Homo sapiens: one gene and its partners. The protein of the gene in region 1 purifies or fractionates together with the protein of each later gene. This does not show direct contact. Each region holds a gene or a part of one and is shown on either strand. Other genes may lie near its edges.

What was found. Proteins that work in one complex are often made in the same cells at the same time.
Region 2: the proteins of RHOD (region 1) and C1orf198 purify together in Homo sapiens (affinity purification with mass spectrometry; 4 studies listed by BioGRID and IntAct, with this or other methods). This does not show direct contact.
Region 3: the proteins of RHOD (region 1) and TRMT61B purify together in Homo sapiens (affinity purification with mass spectrometry; 4 studies listed by BioGRID and IntAct, with this or other methods). This does not show direct contact.

Annotation. Positions count from the first base shown.
Region 1 is NC_000011.10:67,052,158-67,059,859, reverse strand, and holds the start of RHOD (rho-related GTP-binding protein RhoD), read right to left. Parts: upstream 3,014-7,702; 5' UTR 2,958-3,013; coding exon 2,826-2,957; intron 1-2,825. UniProt on the Homo sapiens protein: Involved in endosome dynamics. May coordinate membrane transport with the function of the cytoskeleton. Involved in the internalization and trafficking of activated tyrosine kinase receptors such as PDGFRB.
Region 2 is NC_000001.11:230,851,499-230,858,523, forward strand, and holds part of C1orf198 (uncharacterized protein C1orf198), read right to left. Parts: intron 4,510-7,025; exon of another isoform or gene 4,380-4,509; intron 4,221-4,379; coding exon 4,170-4,220; intron 1-4,169.
Region 3 is NC_000002.12:28,860,287-28,867,311, reverse strand, and holds part of TRMT61B (tRNA (adenine(58)-N(1))-methyltransferase, mitochondrial precursor), read left to right. Parts: intron 1-2,192; coding exon 2,193-2,295; intron 2,296-6,003; coding exon 6,004-6,194; intron 6,195-7,025.

The DNA of each region.
Region 1 (7,702 bases):
CCTCCTGGCTGCTGGCCCCTTGGGCTTCGAGGGCTGCCTAGAGGAAGAGTCTGGTGCTAGGGACAGGGGCAGGAGGAGGCTGGGTCCAGCAGGCAGAGCACTGGGGGCTGTGGAGAAGGCCCTGGTCGGGAGGGGGAAGACCTGGGCTCTAGATCAGTGCTGCCACTGCCGGGCCATGTGCCCCCAGGTAAGCCTCTGGGTTCTGGACTCAGTTTTCCCATCTGCAAAATGAAGCCTTTCCAACTCTTACACGTTGTGGGTTCTTTTAATTAATTTATTTAATTACATATATATATATATATTTATATATATTTTGAGACGGAGTCTCGCTCTGTTGTCCCCGAGCTGGAGTGCAATGGCGCGATCTCGGTTCACTGCAACCTCCACCTCCTGAGTTCAAGCGATTCTCCTGCCTCAGCTTCCCGAGTAGCTGGGATTACAGGCGCCTGCCACTATGCCCGGGTAATTTTTTTTGTATTTTCGGTAGACATGGGGTTTCACCATGTTGGCCAGGCTGGTCTTGAATTCCTGACCTCAGGTGATCCACCCACCTTGGCCTCCCAGAGAGCTGGGATTACAGGTGTGGGCCATTACGCCCGGCCCATTGTGGGTTCTTTAAATGAAGAGGACTCTCCTGCTCCAGGGAACTCAGAGCCCCCAGACGGGAGGAGCCTGGACAAATCCAGCCCATTTTCCTGGTGATAAGCATGCCCTCCCCCCATTTCTGGCCAGCCCCAGCATGTCCCTCAAAGCATTCACATCTTATCAACTGGAAGAGGCCCATTTCCACGTCATAACTCCTCTGAAGTTGGGATGGTCTCACCATCAAGGACATCTCAGAGCTGGTGGTGAGGCATCAGCCCTCCAGCCCCCGCCCATCAGGTGCCTTCCCCTGGGCCTGGGCCACCTGTCCCTGTGTGGTGCTCTTCCCCGGGTGCCCTCATTGTTGGGTTCCCATGGGCAGCATCTAGGGGCCCAGAAACATGTTTCCCCCAACTTAAAAAAATGTATGACTGGTCAAAGGAGGTGACACCAGCTCCGCAAGCTACTAAACAAAAGTGGCTCAATGCCACTGCAGCAGAAAGCACATGGGCCAAGGGTGGGAGACAGGCAGACAGATATCATCCTGATAAGAACTACAGTGTGATAAGAACTGGGGTAGGCCCGACCGTCCTGCTTGTGCTCAGATGCTCCAGCACCTATACAACCCCAGGGGCTTAGAGGATGCTGGGAAGAAAAGGAGGAAGAATGCCAGTTGCGGTGGCTCAGGCCAGTAATCCTAGCACTTTGGGAGGCCGAGGCGGGCAGATCGCTTGAGGCCAGGAGTTCGAGACCAGCCTGACCAACATGGCAAAACTCCATCTCTACTAAAAATAAAAAAATTGGCTGGGTGTGGTGGCTCACACCTGTAATCCCAGCATTTTGGGAGGCCAAGGTGGGCGGATCACCAGGTCAAATGATCGAGACCATTCTGGCCAACATGGCGAAACCCTGTCTCTACTAAAAATATACAAAAATTAGCTGGGCACGGTGGCACGCGCCTGTAGTCCCAGCTACTCGGGAGGCTGAGGCGGGAGAATCGCTTGAACCTGGGAGGCAGAGGTTACAGTGAGCCGAGATTGTGCCACTGCACTCTAACCTGGCGACAGAGCGAGACTCCGTCTCAAAAATAAAATAAAATAAAATAATTTTAAAAATTAGCTAGGCGTGGTGGTGGGCGCCTGTAATCCCAGCTACTTAGGAGGCTGAGGCAAGAGAATCGCTTGAACCCAGGAGGCGGAGGTTGCAGTGAGCTGAGATTGTGCCAATATCACTCCAGCCTGGGTGACAGAGTGAGACTCTTCTCAAAAAAAATAAAAATAAAAAAAAAGAAGAGATGCTGGAAGCAACTCCATGGACTCCCAGGACAACAGGGCTGAGAGGCGGCAGAGCAGGGGCCGCCTGGTGCCCGTGGAGTCTGCCTGGGCAGTCAGTGAGCATGTCAGGAAGGATTAACGGTGGGCATGCCTACAGCGCCAAGGACATGCCAGCTACCGCACGGGAGCTGCCTGTCAGCCTCCCCTGGGCTCCACTTCACCACTGCCCTACAGTCCCTCTACCCCATGGGGTTGTTGTGAGGAAACTGAGGCTCAGAGAAGCTAAGCAGGTTACAAAAGGGCACGGGGCTCAGAGGAGAGCAGAGACGCGGGCCCAGCAGCTGAGGCTACAGCTGGCGTGCTCCCACCCTCCAAGGCAGAGCCCATGGCATGTGCTTTCCAGCGGCAAGAGCTGGAAGGGAGACAATGTTTCCCAGGAGCGACATGTGCCAACTCTCCGTGAGTCCTTCCTGTGCACAGGCCGGGGCTGAGTGCTTGAGGTCTATTAACTCTCTGTCACAGTGACCCTGTGTGGTGGGCACTGTCACTCACCTGTGATGTAGTGAGGGACACAGGCACAGCAGGGTTAGGGGACTTACCCAAGGGCACACAGCTATAAGAGGCAAAGCCATAATTTGAACCTCGGCAGTCTGGCTTCCAAGCTCTCAGGCCCTCAGCGGAATTGTGTGGCCAAGTGCTGTCTTAGGATCTTGTGTGCACCCAGGTCGCCTCACTCAGTCCTTGTGACACCTCTCCCCGGTGGATGCCATTCCTCCGGCTTTACAGATAACATCACTGAGGCCTTCATTCCCAATGGCTGGGGCGGAAGAACTCTGCCCTGGACCCCAGGCCCCGCTGGGACACCCCTCGGAGGCCGGGTTAGGCGCACAGCCTGGGCCGCTCCGGCACGGACCTGTACACCCGGGCGCGCGAGCGGAACCGGGCGAGGCGGAGGCGCGGGGCACTCACCTCGGGGAAGGCCCCATCGGCGAAGACCATCAGCAGCGACGTCTTCCCGCAGCCGCCGTCGCCCACCAGGACCACCTTGACGGACCGCACGCCTGGTGGCGCCTCCTCACCCGCGGCCTGGGCCGCCGTCATCCCGGGGCCGGGCGCTGAGCGGGCGGGCGGGCGGCTGCGGCGCAGAGACCCAGACTGCGCGGGGCAGGCCCGGCGGGGCAGGAATGTGGAAGGGGCGGGGCGGCGGGAGGAAGTGCGAGCCGGGCGCCCCGAGAGCCAGGTGAGAGGCCCGGGCGGCTGGGCTGGGGCCCTTCCTCTCCAGGCCGTCTAGGTCCCTGAAGAAACGCTGCCCGAGCACCTACTGTGAGCTGGCCGCGCTGGGGCCACGGGAGGTCGGAAGGGAGAAGACAAACAGCGGGACCATGACAGTGGGGGCGGGGGTGTGCTCAGGGGCTGGGTCCCAGATCCCAGGCAGGAGCCAGTGACCTTTAGTGAATGAATGAATGAATGAATGAATGGTGCATTTCCCCAGGGGTCTCAGGACGCAGCACAACACAGGCGTTTCATGCCAGGTGGGAAGGGGATGACCCCCTTCACTGGCCCCACCAGGCCTGGCCTGCCCCCTCCCGCAGCACCAGGAAGCTCTGCTGCAGGTGGGCAGCCACCTGACACCGTGGCTGGCCACGATCTAGGGAAAGCGATAGAACCTTCCCTCTGTAAAGTGTGAGTGTTTCTTATTATTGCACCATGAGATGTCCCCCTGGTGCCCAAGGGCCCGGGGACCCTGAACTGTTTAAGACAAAATCCAGGCCCTGCCTTGAGAAGCCCACGGCTTAGAATGGTAGACACGCAGGACATCAGTGTGATCAGAACTACAACGGGAGTAGGGACAGGCAGCGGGACGGGAGTAGGGGAAAAGAGCTCCTCGCCCACGTTGAGGGAGTCAGGAAACCTTTCAGAGTCTTGAGGAAAAAGTGAAACACAGTCAGATGGGGGAGGGAAAAGGTGTTCCACCGGAGACAGCGGCACGTGCGAAGCTGCGGAGGCCGGAGCGGAATGCTGCCCCCCCACCCCGCCCCCGCAGAGGGTGAGGCTCGCTTGCACAGTGGTGCAGCATGAGGAGCTGGTGCTTGCTCAGTGGAGCACGTTGGATGCCAGCAGTAAATCCAGCATTGAACTGGGAACTCATTGTCACCTGATCTCTCCACTTCTCCTAATGGCCAGAGTTGAAATCTTTTAAAAATGGGCACAAGGGTCTTCCCAGATCTTGGACTGAGTGTTTCTATTGAAGCTTAAAAGAACAAGGGGCAGACGTCATTAGGTTCCCCCTAATTTATGCTGGTCATGACATCCCCCCTCATGGAGTTCCAAGTCAGGCAGGTGAAAAAGCACCTTCAACCTCCTTTAAACTCACTGTGGTCTAAAGAGGCAGCCAGGGCAGGAGTCACTAGGTGGAGAGGCAGAGCCCAGCTCCTTGACTCCTCTGCCCGGCTCCCGCTCCGGGCTGTGGTCTGCAGGCTGGATGGAGCCCCACTTGGAGGGAAGGATCCTCCCCAGCACAGCTCTGCCTTTCCAGGTGCCCCTTCCTCCCCGAAACTGCCACAGGGCTCGGCAGTGACTTGACACTGGGCTGGGCAGGTAGCTCCAGAGCAGGGCTCCCCGCCCCAAGGAGTGGTGAGAGGGGCCCCACCCCCTCGGATCAGCTGTCAGCATCTTCCTCCCAACTGCTGCTGTCGTCAGGCCTTGGGTGGCAAGGCTGGAAGGCAGGTGGGGCCAGACTGGGGGTGGAGGGAGCTGAGAGTCAGGCAGAGGCGTTTGGCCTTGGTTGCTATAGGGATAATCTCTGTAATGACACACTTGATGTTTGTCATGCTATACAGTTTCACTGAACATTTCCTAATAATAACAACACCCATTAGTGGATTGCAAGCCACGTGTAGGCACTGTTCCCTAGGAGGTAGGGACTCTTAGCTCCATTTCACAGATGAGGAGCCTGAGGCCCAGAGAGGCTAAGTTGTTGACTAACATCCACAGCTAGTAAGAGGCTGAACTAGAATTTGGATCCAGGCGTGACCCCAAAGCCAGGTGGTCTCCCTCCATCACGCCTCATCTGCACAATTGCAATTTCATTTAGCTCTCAGACCACGAGGTAGACCAAGCAGATGACCTGCTTCCTCCCATTTTACAGATTTGGGAACTGAGCCTCAGAGAGAGGCAGAGGGGTGTCTTAGACCAGCAGGACACAGCAAGGATTCAATCTCCTGACGTCAAGCCCCAGCCTCCGCTCCCCCACCATGCTTACGCTCCTGCGAGAGGGAGCTTAGTCACCAGGCCACAGAAATCGGCTCTGGTTGGCAGGGAATGTCCCTGAATCTCAGACATTGCTGGACCTGGGACCATACTGTTTTCCTGGAATTTATTTTTAGAGTGGTGGCCCAGGTCACACAGTCTGCCTGGCCAGGGTACTGTTTACTGTTTTAGTGTTTACTGAGGCTTCTCAGGACTTGCAGCCTGTGGGAGACTTAGGCCCCTCGAGGCCCCACCAACCCCAGGCCCAGATCTGTGGGGAGCCCAGCACCGTGGCCTACTGCCCTGAACCCTTCAAGGGCAGGGGCCAAGGCTCACCGTATCCCCTAGAGGAGTGCCTCTCTCAGGCTGGCACCCAGCTGTGGCTCAGGACGGTATGCCCAGTTGATCTCCTGGCCAGACAAACCAAAGGGACAAGAAAGAAAAAAACAGAGTGAGAAAGAGAGGAAGGAAAGACGGAAGGATGGACGGCAGAGGGGCTGGCTTAGAAGAATAAACAAACTGAAGAAATGAATAAAGGAACAAATACTTGCATGGATGACGAATACCACATGTGACATGAATGGGGAGTCTGTGGACAGGCAACCACTCTCCAGCCTCCGCCTACTCCAAGGCCCCCTGGCCTCACCCCTCTCCCCATTTTCTCACATCCCACCCCCATCCTAAGGCCAAATCCTATGCGGTCCTGATCGAGTCTCCACTGCCCTCATGTGGTCGCTCAGCTCCCTGCACAGTCATCACCTGGGGCTGCCTCCCTGCTTGGGGTTCCTGGCTTGGGGGTGTGGGGTGTTTGTGGATGGCTGAATGAAGGGGAGAGATACAGTCTTTCCCCTTGGAGTGGCTTGGCAGGGTGCACGGGCCCTGGTGTGTAGCTCCCGAAGCTCTTGGTTCCGCGTGCATCCCCTGTCCTCTGCTCTTTTTTTTTTTTTTTCCATGGGGAGTCTTGCCCAGGATGGAGTGCAGTGATGTGATCTCGGCTCACTGCAACCTCCGCCTTCCGGGTTCAGGCGATTCTCCTGTCTTAGCCTCCTGAGTAGCTGGGATTAGAGGCACCTGCCACCACGCCCAGCTAATTTTTGTATTTTTAGTGGAGACGGGGTTTCACCATGTTGGCCAGGCTAGTCTCAAGCTCCTGACCTCAGGTGATCCACCCGCCTCGGCCTCCCATAGTGCTGGGATTATAGGCGTGAACCACCGCGCCCGTCCCTGGCCCACATTCATCTGAAATACTGGATCCTAAGAGCCTTTGCCCTCAGCCTGAACTCCTCCACCCAAAGCCTTGACCTCGCATTTACTGAGCACCTACCTGTGCCGGACACTTGGCACATGTCATTTCATGCCATCCTATGAAGTATGTTCAATTCTTATCCTCCTTTGACAAGTGAGGAAACTGAGGCCCAAAGAGGTTGGATAATTTGCCCAAGGTCCCGCAGCTAGTAAGCAGAGAAGCTGGGATTTGGACCCAGGCCCTTGGGCTCCGGAGTCCATACACACAGAATGTCCAAAAGTCAGAGGTACAGGGCTCTTTAGAGGCCATCTTATCCAACACCCCCATTCTTCAGATGGGGAAACTGAGGCCTGAGAAGGGAAGGAACTTACACAGCAAGTGAGCAGCAGACTCAGCTTTACGCCAGGTGGAAACCAGAGGGCCTCTGCTCCCAAGTTTCTTTTTGTCTAGCCTGCCCAGACAGCTCCAGCCTGGCTGCCATCTAACTGGAGCCCCAGGCCACGGGGACGTGCCCTCCTGCCCTGGCCTCCTCTCCCTGCCAAACCATTATTGATCTTTCAGGTTGGGACGGAAGGGCTGATAATAGGGTGGGAGGGGTGGAGAGAGAGGAGGTCTGGTGGCCCCATCCTGGTGCTTATTAAGCCTTTTGATTTGTCCCTTTTGGGGGTCTGCAGGCACAGACAGATAGAAGAGAGGAAGGGAAGTTTGGAGCTTAGAGCTGCTGCCGACCGTGATGCAGTGGCTTGCTCTGCTTCTCCCACATGCAGGCCTAGCCCAGGCAATGCTGCTGGGCAGGTCAGAGACCTCCACACCTGTCCTCTTCGGTGGGGCTCCCAGACAGAGGGGGCCTGGGACCCTGGAGGTGTGTCCTTGGGCCCAGGGCTGGAGGAGGGGAGATGAAGGGGTGGGGAGGGATGGGACCCTGGATGTGGGGTGGCCTGAGAAAGGAGGGAAATAGGTTGGGAAGATTACAAGAGAGAAGAAGGAGGCAAGACAGCTTCTCAGAGCCTGGGTTGTCCCAGCTTCTCTCCAGGATGGCACCTCAGTTTGAGTCCTGCTGAATGAACCCAAACCTAAAGGCAGCTCAGAGGCCTCCTGCCTGCCCCTCCTGCCACTCACTGGCGAGGGTAACATTCACTGATGTCCCTCTGTGTCACCTCCAAAGCTGCTTAGAGTGACCCCTCCCTCCCTTGGACCTGCTCCTGCTCAAGACCCCACCATGGCTCCCCACTGCCAGCAGGATAAGGAGCTTCTCCCTGAGCTTGGACACACAGCCTCCACAGCCCAACCCCACCTGGCCTCTCAAGCCTCAGCCCAGCTGTGTCTCCCCAGACACTGTGACACCTTTGCT
Region 2 (7,025 bases), on another chromosome or scaffold:
CTGTCTGGAGCCTTCTAAGTGCTGAGTTTTTTCCTCTCGAAACAGCAGTAGCATGAGACAGGAATGCAACATTAGGTCCCCACTGGCCCCCTCTCCCCTGGCACGCCTGCCAAGCTGATAGATGAGTGGAAAAGATGACAATCACGACCACCCCCACCCTTCTGGGACAGGCAGGCCTCCCTTCTGTGATGGAAGAAGTCTGGGTAACAGAGGCACCACAGCCACGATCAGCCTCAGAGGAGGCAACCGAGGCAGGGTGGACAGGCTGGAAAACCAGGTGGGTGCACAGCTGCTACTGTGAGGCTGCAGCGAGCTCTCCTGATCAAAGCTGCGTTGCATGGGGGCAGCGACCACAGGTCCCAAGCACAACCGCAGCTCATTCTGTGGAGGTGGAATGGTCATGGGCTGGCCAAGAGAAAGGAACCCATACAGAGGTGCAGCAGTTGGGTGAGAAACCAAAAATCCCTGCGATTCTTAACTCTGCCCATGGCCATGACCTTGGGTCAGGCTTACCCTTGTGTAGGTAGATTCGTCAGGGGATGGAGAAGTCAGAGCTGGGCACTCTGCTGGCATCCACTAAATGTCTGTTGAACTGAATAGCTGAAGAAGGGCATGAGGTTACATCTACCCAACATGTGTACAAATTTGGGTTAAACGTATGGAGAAAATGACTGGAGTGACTCGGTGGCTATAGCTTTTGTGCTGAGTGAGATTTGCCACCAAACACAGCTGTCCACTCACTGAGCTGTTGTTCGAGCACAGAAGTGGCATATGCTCAACTCTGGGCCTGCAGCATAATGTCTGACATAAACGGGGTATACAATAAATATCTACTGGAAAAAAAAAATCAATGAATGATTTCAGAGACAGAAAATAGATGGTGGCTGCCATGGGCTAGTGAGAGTGGGGGGCAGTCATTCTTTAATGGGAACAGAGTTTCAGTCTTGCAAGATGAGTTCTGGAGGTGTGGATTAGCTTGACTTAATCATTCCACAATGTACACACGTATCAAAACATCTTGTTGTACATCATAAATATACACAATTTTTCATTTGTCAATTAAAAAGTAATAATTTTTAAAAAGAGTTCTCGAGATGGATGATGGTGATGTTTACACAAAAATGTGAATGTACTGAATGCCACCAGACTATACACATAAACATGATTAAGATGGAAAATTTTATGTTGTGTGTATTTTGCCACAATTAAAAATAAAACTTAAAAAAATCAATGAGTGATTAATTAAAAATGGAAAGAAATGGCCAAGGTTAACCAAGGAATGAATGACATCATACAATCTTAGATTTAAAATGGGTGCAAACTCTCTGCAGCTCTTCTATCAAGAGGTGCAATCTCTTTCCTCAAACATTGAATCTGGCCCAGCTTGTGCCTTGATTTGACCAGCAGAACAGAGCAGAAGTGATACTATGCAATTGCCCAGCCTAAGCTTCAAAAGAGTCCTCGTAGGCTTCCGTTCCCGCACACGGATCTCTCCACCTCTGTGTGAAGAAGTCCAGGCTGGCTTGCTGGAGACATGTGGCCCAGCTAACAGCCAGCACCAACCAGACACGTGAGCAAGGTTCTCAGAGCACCCAGCTCCCATCAGGCGATCAGATGACACATAAGTGATCCCAGGCAAGGCCAACGGAAGAACAGTCCAGCTGAGCCCTGCTCCGATCATTGACCCACACAATCATGAGCACATAAAATGCTGCTTCAAGCCATTAAGTTTGTTATGCATCTATAGAGAACTGATAGAGTGAGGAAGGCATCAGTTGAGAGGTAACAAGAAATGGGGTCCAAGTCTCCCTCCAGTCCTGCAATTGGAGATTAGGGGGTCCTACCTTCACTAAAGCCACCTCCTGTTTGTGGCTCTCCAATGAAGATCTTATAAGCCTTTAAGTCCTAAGAAGAGTTTGGCAAATCTCTTCAAGCAGGATGGCAGGGCACTCCAGGGTTAAGACAAAGGAGGAATGAGTGATGGGCTTTTTAAAACTCGGCACTGCCTAGTGAAGAAGGAGGAAGGGACAGCTCCCTTGCTCTCTGAGATACGCTCTATTTTGCCCCTAGACGTTTCTAATAGTAAACTATAGTAAGTCTGACCTCGAGAGATCAAACAGGAAGGTGAGGACACAGAGTGAGCCCAACAGTTTGTGAAACAAACTGGAACTCTAATCTAACAGGAGTATGAAATGAAACTGCCAACTCTGAGCTATGAAGACTACACTTTACTAAAAGGATGCAATTTCTGATGGGTGACACATATTAACCAGATTTTAGCAAGCTTCCTCAACTTACACTGGTTCCTAAGGGACCAGATATGCTGGCATCTGTGGACAATGAGCCTCTCAGCACAAGTGTGATTCAAGTGGACTGTACTTGCTCTCTTTTTTCTCGAGATCTTCGCCAGGCACCTGTTTCCCACTCTGGCCCCAGCAGCTGTGCTTGTATCAGTGGCCACTCCAGGAGCTGCACCACCTTGTCCCAGAATGTCATTTATGCCAAGTTAATAAAAGATGAAATGTCCTGTCCCACAAATAGCTGATTCAGGAACATTTAACAAGCTAAATTCTTAAGAGAACAGATGTTCTCGTGGGGAACATGATGAGCTTAGGTCTTAGGACACTTTAACTATTTTTTACTTTCCTTTGCCTTTATCACTATGATATCTTCAAATATAGACCCAGTCCAGGAAAATCTGCACTGCTTTCTGGGTCACCATACCCAAGGCTGCTCATTTCCAACACACAGAGAATCTATCTGGCTATTACCACTAGATATCATCTATAGGATTAGTACTTCTCACAATTACCCATTTTGGGAGCCCATAGAAGAGGAATATTGAGGGCCCTGGCTAAGAATCAATGTAATGATGCACTTTTTACCCACTTATGACTTCCTTTGCAATGTCAGTAGACACAGGATCCAGTGTTGGATTTAGAAGCTATTCCAATTGCAGGCGGCTCCTTAACATCTTGTGCTCTCTCCCAAGACAGTGCTGGTCACCCCTGCAACCCGTACCCGATCCCTAGGGAGACTACATTAATGCCATGCCTTCCCCAAAACCACCTCTTAACTCTAACACTCATCTCAATTGTCCCACGCTCCCACGCCCTGAGGCCAGCTCACTTCACCCAGGGCAATCGGCAATAGCTTACTAAATACTGTCTGTGTGCCAAGAACAGTGTCAGCTGTCCTTGTGTCCATCTGAACCCTTGGGCAATATTTCATTTTAAGACACAGTCGCCAACATGAGGGCCTCTCAGGGTCCTTCATGAACCACTCTGGCCCACCCTCCTCATAGGTCTCCTGCTGGGATGAGGGCTCTGATCAGCAATGATGTGGACAAGTGAAAAACCAAAAAACAAGTGCCTTGAGGTATCAGTATTTAAAAACCCTGATCTGCCCAGCAGTCCGAGCCCTATTCCAGGCTCACCACCGTCTCTGTCTGTAACACACTCTCATGACGTAAAGAACCCTCCAACACACATCACCAAATGTTCCAGAATTCAGAAAATCTTGGTCTTTTATTTCTGTCCCTTGGGTTAAAGACACCTGTCTTTTAGTCATTTTGCTTATGAATGTACTTCTACTGGGGCAACTTAGGAGATGGGGAAAATGAATTAAAATCAGTGAAGCTTGATGCTCTTAAGCAACTCTGGTGATGATGATGATAATGATGAGAAGAAGAATGACTGGGAGACAGAATTAGTGATCCACGTTGGGATGAATTAGCTAAATGGATGTCTATGTCTATCAATCAGCTCGTCACCTCCCATTTGCTCAAAGCTTTGTCTTATGGGGCATCTCCCATCAAGGTGCTAAGTGCTGGGAACCAGAGGTATGAGCAGAGACAGGGCCCCCAAGAGGGCTGGCCCCCTTAACCAAGCTGGCCGGGAGTCCTAGACAATGGGCATCATGGGGCGTCATTGGACCCTGGCAGAAAGCACTACTACTTTGAACTCACTATCACCAAACCACACACAATAGTTTCCTAATTCCTCACCATGCTCCTCCCATCCCCTCCTTTTCTACCAACAATGGACACATCCCCTGCAGCCTGGCAGTCAGGGGGCTGTCTTCTGAGTCCATCAAATGCTGAAAGAAAAATATACAACTACTCAGTTCTTTTTAAAAGAACAAATAGATCTAAATTTAATCCAACTTACCTTTGTTTCCCAGGAGAAAGGGGCAGAGTGCTCATCTTGCCAAGTTAGATCCTGAAATAAAAAATCGAGAATAAGTCTGAAATTCAAACCCAGACATACCCCATGCAAATATCCACCCAGGACCGTGGGGGAACCAAAACTTAGGAATAATCCCAACTCCTGGCTCTAAACAAGCCTGATGCTTTGACACTCTCAATATAATGCGCTGACCGTCTTGATCAGATTGCTCCCTCATCTTTCCCGCTGAGGCTGCCAGACACTCCCCTCCCCAGCCAAACAGACAACAGGGAATGCCGGTGAGGCCCCCCAATGGACTCAGACAGATGAGATGAGTAGGAGTGGATGAGGGCTTGATGGTCTCAGCAGAATCAGGCACAGACTCAGCCCTGAACAATGATTAGCTGTGTGGCCATGGGAAGATGACTCAGCCTTTTTGAGCCTCAGTTTTCTCATTTGTAAAAGCAAAATGATACTTCCCTTGCAGGGCTGTTGTAAGGATTAAATGAGGTAATCTGGGAAAAGAACGCCAAGCCATAATCTGCCAGTCAATGCCAATACAGGAGCTCCCCTCCTCCCCAACAGGCCTACCAGAGAGCTCGAGGGCATGGATCAGCAGAATCAATGAAGAAAAACGCCAATGTAATCCATGTGACTAATTATAACAAGAACTCTGAAATCACTCCCCACCCCCACCAAACAGAACAGGACAGAAAGAGCCCTATAGAACAATCACTACGAATTTGACCTTGGATCCAGTATGTTTTGTTCACTGGCCTGCACAAATGACTTGGGGAAGCCACCTTTCCTTATATCCCACCCTCTACCCGCAGTTATTCCTGTGCTAGCAAATGTCTCATCTGTGTCCAGCTTCGATTGGGTAACTTTTGTTTGTTTGTTGGTTTGTTTTAAGAGATGGGGTCCCAGTATGTTGGCCAGGCTGGACGCAAACTCCTGGGCTCAAGGGATGCTCCTGCCTTGGGTGTCCAGAGCAGCTGGGACTACAGGTGTGCACCATGTCTGACTGCTTCTACTGGGAGCATATTTTCAGAACAAAAAATCAGGACACATTGGGTGATACAGGCTAAAATGGGATAAAATATTTTAAACGGAGATCATATCCATATCTCCCCAAAACTCCAGGTGATTTATGTCCTTCCGTAAGTATCCCTGGATAACTGTCTTCTTCCCACCCATAGGTACACCGACTCTGCGCCCCTAAGTCAAGGGTCTGGCTTCCCTCTCCTCTACAGGGCAAACCAGTTCTGCCCACAGACCCTCTTCTTTCAGCTTTTGACAGAGCCTCCGCCACCCTAGCTTAGCCTCAGACACTGGGGGCAAATGCCAGGGCCCACGCAGGGGGAGTGCCTCACCAACACATAAGTGTACACATTCAGCCTTCCAGACCCCGAGTGTGCGTTCTCTGTGCAGACGCCTCCTAACATGAACAGCCAGTGGGAGGTCAGTCTTTGAACTCAAATAACGAAGGCATGCCAGGGTCTGGGCAGCTGAAGGCCTATTCCCAAGAAGCGGGGACAGGGAAGGAAGTGTGTGATGACTCCCCAGCACAGCCCAAGCACGGCCAACCCTAGATGACAGGGGCAACACAGCAGGGCCTTTGTCCGCTTCTCTATCCCAAGTGCCCGGAAGACTCAGCGACTGCCCGTAGCGGACGCTTACTCACTCTTTGAGAATATGTGAATAAACAAACTCTGCACAAGCCCGGATCCTTTCACAGGTTGATTTTCCCCCACAATCACCCGCTCCCAACACTCACACTCCCCCAAGACTTCCCAATGTGGGGGCACAGGCTCTTCACAGCTCTTGGCCCCAGGAGGAAGAGCCAGCCATCAACAGGGTAGAGATCTGGTTCTGTGTCCTGATGGCTGTGCTGTGTGCCTTGGCTCTGTGCAGTAGAGGCTGGTACATTTGTGGCACAAATACTTCACATATGCTGGGGATAAAGAGCAAGGAAAACCCAGAGAGGAGACTGTCAAAAGGCCAGAATCCAGGTCTTTATTTTCCCAGGACAGCATATAAAAGGACTAAATATATTTATATCAGGAAAAAAAACACCACTAACAAAGATACTAGGTATAAATATTAAGAATTACAAAAGTGAGGGAAAAGCCCTACAAACTGGGTTAAGCTGCATTAAAGTGTATCAAACAGTCAGTTCTGAGAACCACATAGTGTGTGCAACTAATGACCATGTGCACAGTAAGATGACCCCCATCCTCAGAGTGTTACAGTCACTGTCCTGTAATGGTATTTGCTTATGATCCTGACTTCTGAACTGATTGGTATGCAGTGCCTCATGGCTGTCAAGCAAAACCTTTAAAAATGAGAGGAACCACTGCCTTTTTGTTTGGAATTTCAGTTAAACTCAAGTCACTTCCCAATGCACAAACTTCATTCCTCCAAAAATGGAAATGGATGCCTGGAGGAATGTGAGTTACCAAGGCTTTGTGATTAGATGTCTCCTAGCAGAGGCAGAGGGCCAGCCTTCAGCTCTAGGGGGCTCCTTGTCCACGTCTCTGTGTGCATGCTAGGGGTACAGTTGAGCTAAATAACCAAAGTCCCTAAAATCCTCAGAACCCTCTGAGTTCCGTTTAGAAGCAATCAAACCAAGAAGGGCTTTGTTTTCACATGGGAAAAATAAAAGAGGCTGATGGAATGTAAGTATCATTTATTCTAGTTAATCATTCATTAACTCTTCGTGAATAAATGATCTCTGCACAAGCCTGGATATTTTCACAGGTTGATTTTCCTCCCCAGCCTCCACACCCCACACTCACACACCCCCTAAGACTTCACCGGCTCTTCACAGCTCTTAGTTCCAGGAGGAAGAACCGGCCA
Region 3 (7,025 bases), on another chromosome or scaffold:
ACCAGCCGGGGCAACATAGGGAGACCTTGTCTCTACAAAAAATAAAAAATTAGCCAGGTATGCTGGCACACACTTGTGGTCCCAGCTACGCAGGAGGCTGAGATGGGAGGATTGTTTGAGCCCAGGAGTTTGAGGCTGCAGCGAGCCATGATCTTGCCACTGCACTCCAGCCTGGGCAACAGTGTAAGATCCTATCTCAAAAAAAAAGTGAGGGGGCAGGTGCCGTCACTCACACCTGTAATCTCAGTGCTTTGTGAGGCCAAGGCAGGAGGATTGCTGGAGGCTAGGAGTTCAAGACTAACCTGGCCAACATAGCAGGACCCCATCTTTATAAAAAATAAAAAAAAAATTAGTTGGGCATGGTGGTACATGCCTGTGGTCCCAGCTACTTTGGAGGCTGAGGTAGGAGGATTGCTTGAGCCCAGAAGTTCGAGGCTGCCGTGAGCTACTATTGCACTACTACACTCCAGTCTGAGTGACAGAGACCCTGTCACCAAGAAAATTTGTTTACTAAATTTAAAAAAACAGTTTTTATTAATATCATCCGTAATATTTGTGTTAACAAAAACAATTCCAATTATATGTTTGGCAAGTGGGTCCTCCAATCTAGTAATAGCATAGTCTCTTTTTTTTCTTATATAGCAGGGCTCCCCTACCCCCAGGCTGAGGACTGGTACCAGTGTGTGGCCTGTAACAGGGAACCGGGCCACACAGCAGGTTAGCGGTGGGTAGTGAGCATTACTGCCTGAGCTCCATCTCTTGTCAGATCAGCCATGGCATTAGATTCTCATAGGAGTGCAAACTCTTGTGAACTGTGCATGCACCAGATCTAGGTTGCATGCTCCTTATAAGAAACTAACTAATGCCTGATGATCTGAGGTGGAACAATTTCATCCCAAAACCATCCCCCTCTCCCCAGTCTGTGGAAAAACTGTCTTCCACGAAACGGGTCCCTAGTGCCCAAAAGGTTGGGGACCGCTGTTATATAGTATCTTAATTCTAAATTAGAAGTTCATCATTTGGCCAGGCACGTTGGCTCACACCTGTAATCCCAGCACTTTAGGAGGCCGAGGCGGGCAGATCACCTGAAATCAGGAGTTTGAGACCAGCCTGGCCAACATGGTGAAACCCCATCTCTACTAAAAATACAAAAAATTAGCTGGGTGTGGTGGTGGGTGCCTGTAATCCCAGCTACTTGGGAGGCTGAAGCAGGAGAATCGCTTGAACCCAGGAGGCGGAGCTTGCAGTGAGCCAAGATTGTACCACTGCACTCCAGCCTGGGTGACAGAGCGAGACTCTGTCCCCCCAAAAATAAGAAGTTCATCATTTTGAGCTGGGCACACTGGCTCACACCTGTAATCCCAGCACTGTGGGAGGCTGAGGCGAGCGGATCACCTGAGGTCAGGAGTTCAAGACCAGCCTGGCCAACGTGGTGAAACCCCATCTCCACTAAAAATACAAAAATTAGCCGGGCATGGTGGCAGGCACCTGTAATCCCAGCTATTCGGGAGGCTGAGGCAGGAGAATCGCTTGAACCCGGGAGGCGGAGGTTGCAGTGAGCCAAGATCGTGCCATCACACTCCAGCCTGGGGGACAAGAGTGAGACTTCGTCTCCCAAAAAAAAAAAAAAAAAAAAAAAGGAAATTCATCATTTTATGCAGAGATTATATAGTAAATTCCTAACTGGTCTTCCTGCCTCTTGATTTTTCTCCAGTAGATCCTGTATTCTTCTGCCAGATTAATCCTCATAAAATGCCATTTATATCACCTCAGTGACACACCCTAGTTGCTTATCAGGCTGAGTTCTAATGCCTCATACTGGCATTTAATTCTCTGCCTATCTCTCCTGAGATAACAAACTGGATTTATTCTACCTCTGCTTTGTTTAAAGCTGTTTTTACCTTGTGATTGTTCCCATAAATTGTCTACTCTTTGTCTTTAAACTAGGCCATCCTGCTACTCTATGAACTTATTGTCTGTAATTTTGGTATTATTCTGAAGTGTTGCCTTATTTGTTAATTGATTCTTGGATCTCTTTTATTTCATCAAGTGAAATATAAACTGAAGGCAGGTCCAGAGTCTGATTCGTTTTTTCACTCCCTTCTTCTGCACACCCAACAATGTAAGATAAGACTAGGTGCTTAGTACATATTTATTGGTCGCTGAGTCACCCATACTGTTTTCAATCATAGGATATTAATATGATTCTCTCAATGATGGATATCAACCCAGGTGATACTGTTTTGGAAGCTGGCTCAGGCTCTGGTGGAATGAGCTTATTTTTATCCAAAGCAGGTAAGAGATTGGACTGAGCTGGATCTCAGTAACAAAGAAAACATTCAATTTGTTCATAATAACAGAAAGGTATAAAGATATTTGGGAAAATACCTAACATTGAGGTAGCATTCTCCTAGAATCTGAAAGTAAGCAACTATTTTTCTTTCCATTCTGTACATTTATTCCAGTCAGTCTCTTTCTAATCCTCCCTCAATTTTCTTTGCTTTGTTTTACTTTCTCCATGCTCTCTAATGCTGCTTCTTTTTTCTTAAGTATACTTTTTATTGGAATATAATATGGCTACAGAAAAGTGTGCAGATCATAAGTGTATATCTCAATGAATCTTTGTATAGTGACCACTCATGTACTTATTACCGAGATCAAGGTAGGGAGTGTCCCTGCCCCACAGATGCCTCCTCATGTCCCCTCCCAGTCCTTATCATCACCAAAGGAAACCACTATTGTGACTTTTATCATCACTGATTAGTTTTGCCTCCTTCGAACTTATATAAAATGGAATCATACAGTATGTGCTCCTTTGTATCTGGCTACTCTCATTCATTATTATGTTTGTGAGATTCACTCATTGCATGCAGCAGTAGTTCTTTCATTTTAGTTGCTGTATAATACTCTCTATTTAAATCACAATTTACCTATTTTACTGTTGATAGACATTTGAGTTGGATATTACAAATAGTGCTGCTTGGAACCTCCTTGTGTACTTGTCATGTTATTGTTGAATACTAGTGCCAGGTGAATACTTAGCCTGAGGGAATATGGAAGGACGTTGTCAGCTGTTGGGGGGAGAGTTATATATCGTTAGGGCCAAAGAATTATAGTAGGTGTTCATAAAGAAATTAATCATAGTACAGAGCTATTAAGTAAAAAGCTAGATCATGAAGAATTATCTTTTTTTTTTCCAGAAAGTCTCTAAAAATTGTCAGTTGGTAAAAGTACTGCTTGAAGGTGGGTGTCTGATCAAAAATCAAGAGGTGTATATTAAACATATATATTTTTTCATGTTCCTACCACTTAATTTCTAGTTACTTTTATGCTAGTTGATTAGTACCTCTTTGCCTACCTAATTTCTCTGAGTGTCAGGGTTGCTTTGGGTGGTCTGTCTGTGCAGTGTTCTCTTCCCTACATAATACTAGACTGCTGAATAGTCACAGTACTTTCTTTGAGTAGATTTTATAAAGATTACAGATAGAAATATGCTGAAATTAAACTCACACCTTTTGTTCTTTGACCTAATGTCTTCACATATGAATATTATCTAGATTATACTAAGCCGGTAAATTCATTCTGGGCTCCTCAATCAATCTTTTGTTTGACTTTTCTGTACATAGTTAAAGGCAGTCATTTTCTCATCATCTATGACAAATTCCTAACTGCACGGTTTCATTTGACAAAGTGGATTTATAAAAATTGGTGAGAACAGATAAGTGCCTATATTTCTAAAATATATAGTATCAGAAGAGTGTCATGGCTTGAATAATCCTAAACTATAAATGTGCAAGAACTTATTGCTATTTACCTATGTGATGGATATTTTTCTCCATATTTTCTTTTCCAGTTGTTTATGTTACTTTTTTTTTTTTTTTGAGGCGGGTTCTCACTCTGTTCCCCAGTTTGGAATGCAGTGGTATGATCGTGGCTCACTACAGCCTTGACCCTCGGAACTCAAGTGATCCTGTCGTCCCAGCCTCCCAAGTAGGTGGGACAATAGGCACATACCACCAAAGCTGGCTAATTTTTAAAGTTTTTGTAGAGACTGGGTCTCACTGTTGCCCAGGCTGGTCTTGAACTCCTGGCCTCAAGCAATCTTGCCTAAGCCTCCCAAAGTGCTGGGATTACAGGCATGGGGCACCACGCCCAGCTTATGTTACTATTAAAATTAATTTTTATCTCCTGAGAACCTGATAACTTGCAGTTGGAGTTACATTTCAAAAGATACCTTGGAATTTAAACTTCATTAGTAAACTGTAAACTGATTGATCTGGGATAATCTCCAAATGGTATCAAATCACTTCAGATAGAGGTGGGTGGAAAGTTAATTGCCTTAAGTTAAAATGTAGTACTCCTCTCTGGAATTGCAGTATTACTGTGCTAATTAGTTTAAAAGTTCTTCACATACACACACACACACACACACACACACACACACACAAATACAAATACCTTTAATTTTTTTTTTTTATTTTTTGGTAGAGACAGGGTTTCACCATGTTGGCCAGGCTGGTCTCGAACTCCTGACCTCAAGTGATCTGCCTGCCTTGCCCTCCCAAAGTGCTGGGATTACTGTGGCGAGCCACTGTATCCGGCCACAAATACCTTTTAAATATATGAAAGACTCAACCTCATCCATAATAAAAGAAATGCAAGTTAAAATTACATTAAAAGGCTGAGCATGGTGGCTCACGTCTGTAATCCCAGCACTTTGGGAGGCCGAGGCAGGCAGATTGCTTGAGCTCACGAGTTTGAGACCAGTCTGGCAACATGGCGAAACCCTGTCTCTACCAAAAATACAAAAAGTTAGCTGGGTGTGGTGGCACACACCTGTCGTCCCAGCTGTTCAGGAGGCTGAGGTGGGAAGATCGCTTGAGCCTGGGAGGTGGGGGTTGCCGTGAGCTGTGATTGCACCACCGCACTCCAACCTGCGTGACAGAGTGAGATCTTGTCTCAAAAAAAAAAAAAAAAACCAAACTCAAAAATCTACATTAAAAATGATAAACTTTATTCACTTTTTAGATTGATACAGATAAAAAGTTCAATAACTTAGGGAGAGTATGGAGATACAGGTATTCTTTTTTTTTTTTTTTTTTTTTTTGAGACGGAGTCTTGCACTGTCACCCAGGCTGGAGTGCAGTGGCGCATCTTGGCTCACTGCAATCTCTGCCTCCCAGGTTCACGCCTTTCTCCTGCCTCAGTCTCCCGAGTAGCTGGGACTACAGGCATGTGCCACAACACCTGGCTAATTTTTTGTATTTTTTTTAGTAGAGACAGGGTTTCACCGTGTTAGCCAGGATGGTCTCAATCACCTGACCTCATGATCTGCCCGCCTCGGCCTCCCAAAGTGCTGGGATTACAGGCGGGAGCCACTGCGACCGGCCTGAGATACAGGTATTCTAATACATTGCTGGTTGGCATATAAGTTGACACCACTTACGTGGAGGACAATGTAATATTATGTGAATAAATTCACATACCCCTTGAGCCAGCAATTCCATTTTTAGGACTTTATCCTGTAGAGATATACTGGCTTGATACAAAGACTTAGGTATAAGAATTTTCATTGCAGTATTGTTTATATTAGCATATGACTAGAAACAAGCTAAATGTTCATCGTAGCCATACAGTGAATATAATGCCTGTTAAAAAAGAATGCAGTACATCTAGAAGCACTGAAATGACATTGGTAAGTAAGAAGGAAGGTACAGGACAGTGTGTATAATACACCACAGTGTGTATTAAAAACACAGAGAGATACTTGGCATGCTTGTATAGGCAGTGACTATCATGGGAAAGGTAAATAGCTGGTAATGTGGTTGCCTCTGAAGAGGGAGGGAGATTAATTGGAGATCAGGGATAGGAGATCAGACTTGTAACATTGAACTATTTGAATTATTTTTTTCACATACATGTAGTACCTTTGCAAAATACATTTTTGACACTTTTTAATAAACTGATTAATATTATGAAATATCAAATTATTTTTTACTTAAGTTGGATCACAAGGACGAGTCATAAGTTTTGAGGTACGAAAAGACCACCATGATCTGGCTAAGAAGAATTACAAACACTGGCGTGATTCATGGAAATTAAGTCATGTAGAAGAGTGGCCAGACAATGTGGATTTTATTCATAAGGACATTTCAGGAGCAACCGAAGACATAAAATCTTTAACATTTGACGCAGTAAGTTTTCTAACGTGGGTCCTGTGTTATTACTTTGACTATAAAGAAGATAGGGGTCAGGCTTCTTTTGTATGGGCAAAGGTCTTCCTTCGTTTGCTTCATGTCTATCTCTAGGGATTGAAAGAATATTTTCGTTTCATGCCTTTTAATCTCATGGTGGGATTTGGGACAGAGAGACATACTGAGTTACCGAGTTGGGTGCTGAAGTTGTCATTGAATGTGGGGTAATGACTGAAAGCTAGGACCAAAGACTAGTTGAGCATCATGAACCTCAGCATTTCTAGGATGAATCATACTTTGGAAGCAGCATTGGAAGCATATTGAACCCGGCACCTAACCTGAACTGTGAGATTTGGGGGAATAAGTAGCTTCCATTTGACAGGGAATAGGCAGAAGGCATCTTTAGTTAGTTGAAGTCAGGATATCAAGGGGAGTGTGTTCATTGAAGATGTCGAGGACAGAGGTGTTTATCATGAACAAAGCTCCAGAAAGTGGAGCAGAGACATTGTGAGGAAGAGAAACACTGGGAAGTTGACTTAGGGAAAAGAAGCAGAGAAGATGAAAGTAAAAAGATAGATGACAAGAGAGGATACATTAAGCTGCGATCAAACATGGTGGAGATCTGGGACATGGAAGTATTTGCTGGCTGAAGAGTTTCAGAATTCCTTGGTGATGCCACTTCACAGTTCATAGCTTCACACTATGGACTGAGGCCTTGGTTAGGAGTCTTTCTTCCTTTCCTTAATTGGCTGCTGGAAGGATGGACTGTTTTGGTGAGAAATGAAGCAAAGTTCAAAGAGGAGAGAAAATCTTTTTTTTTTTTTTTTTTTT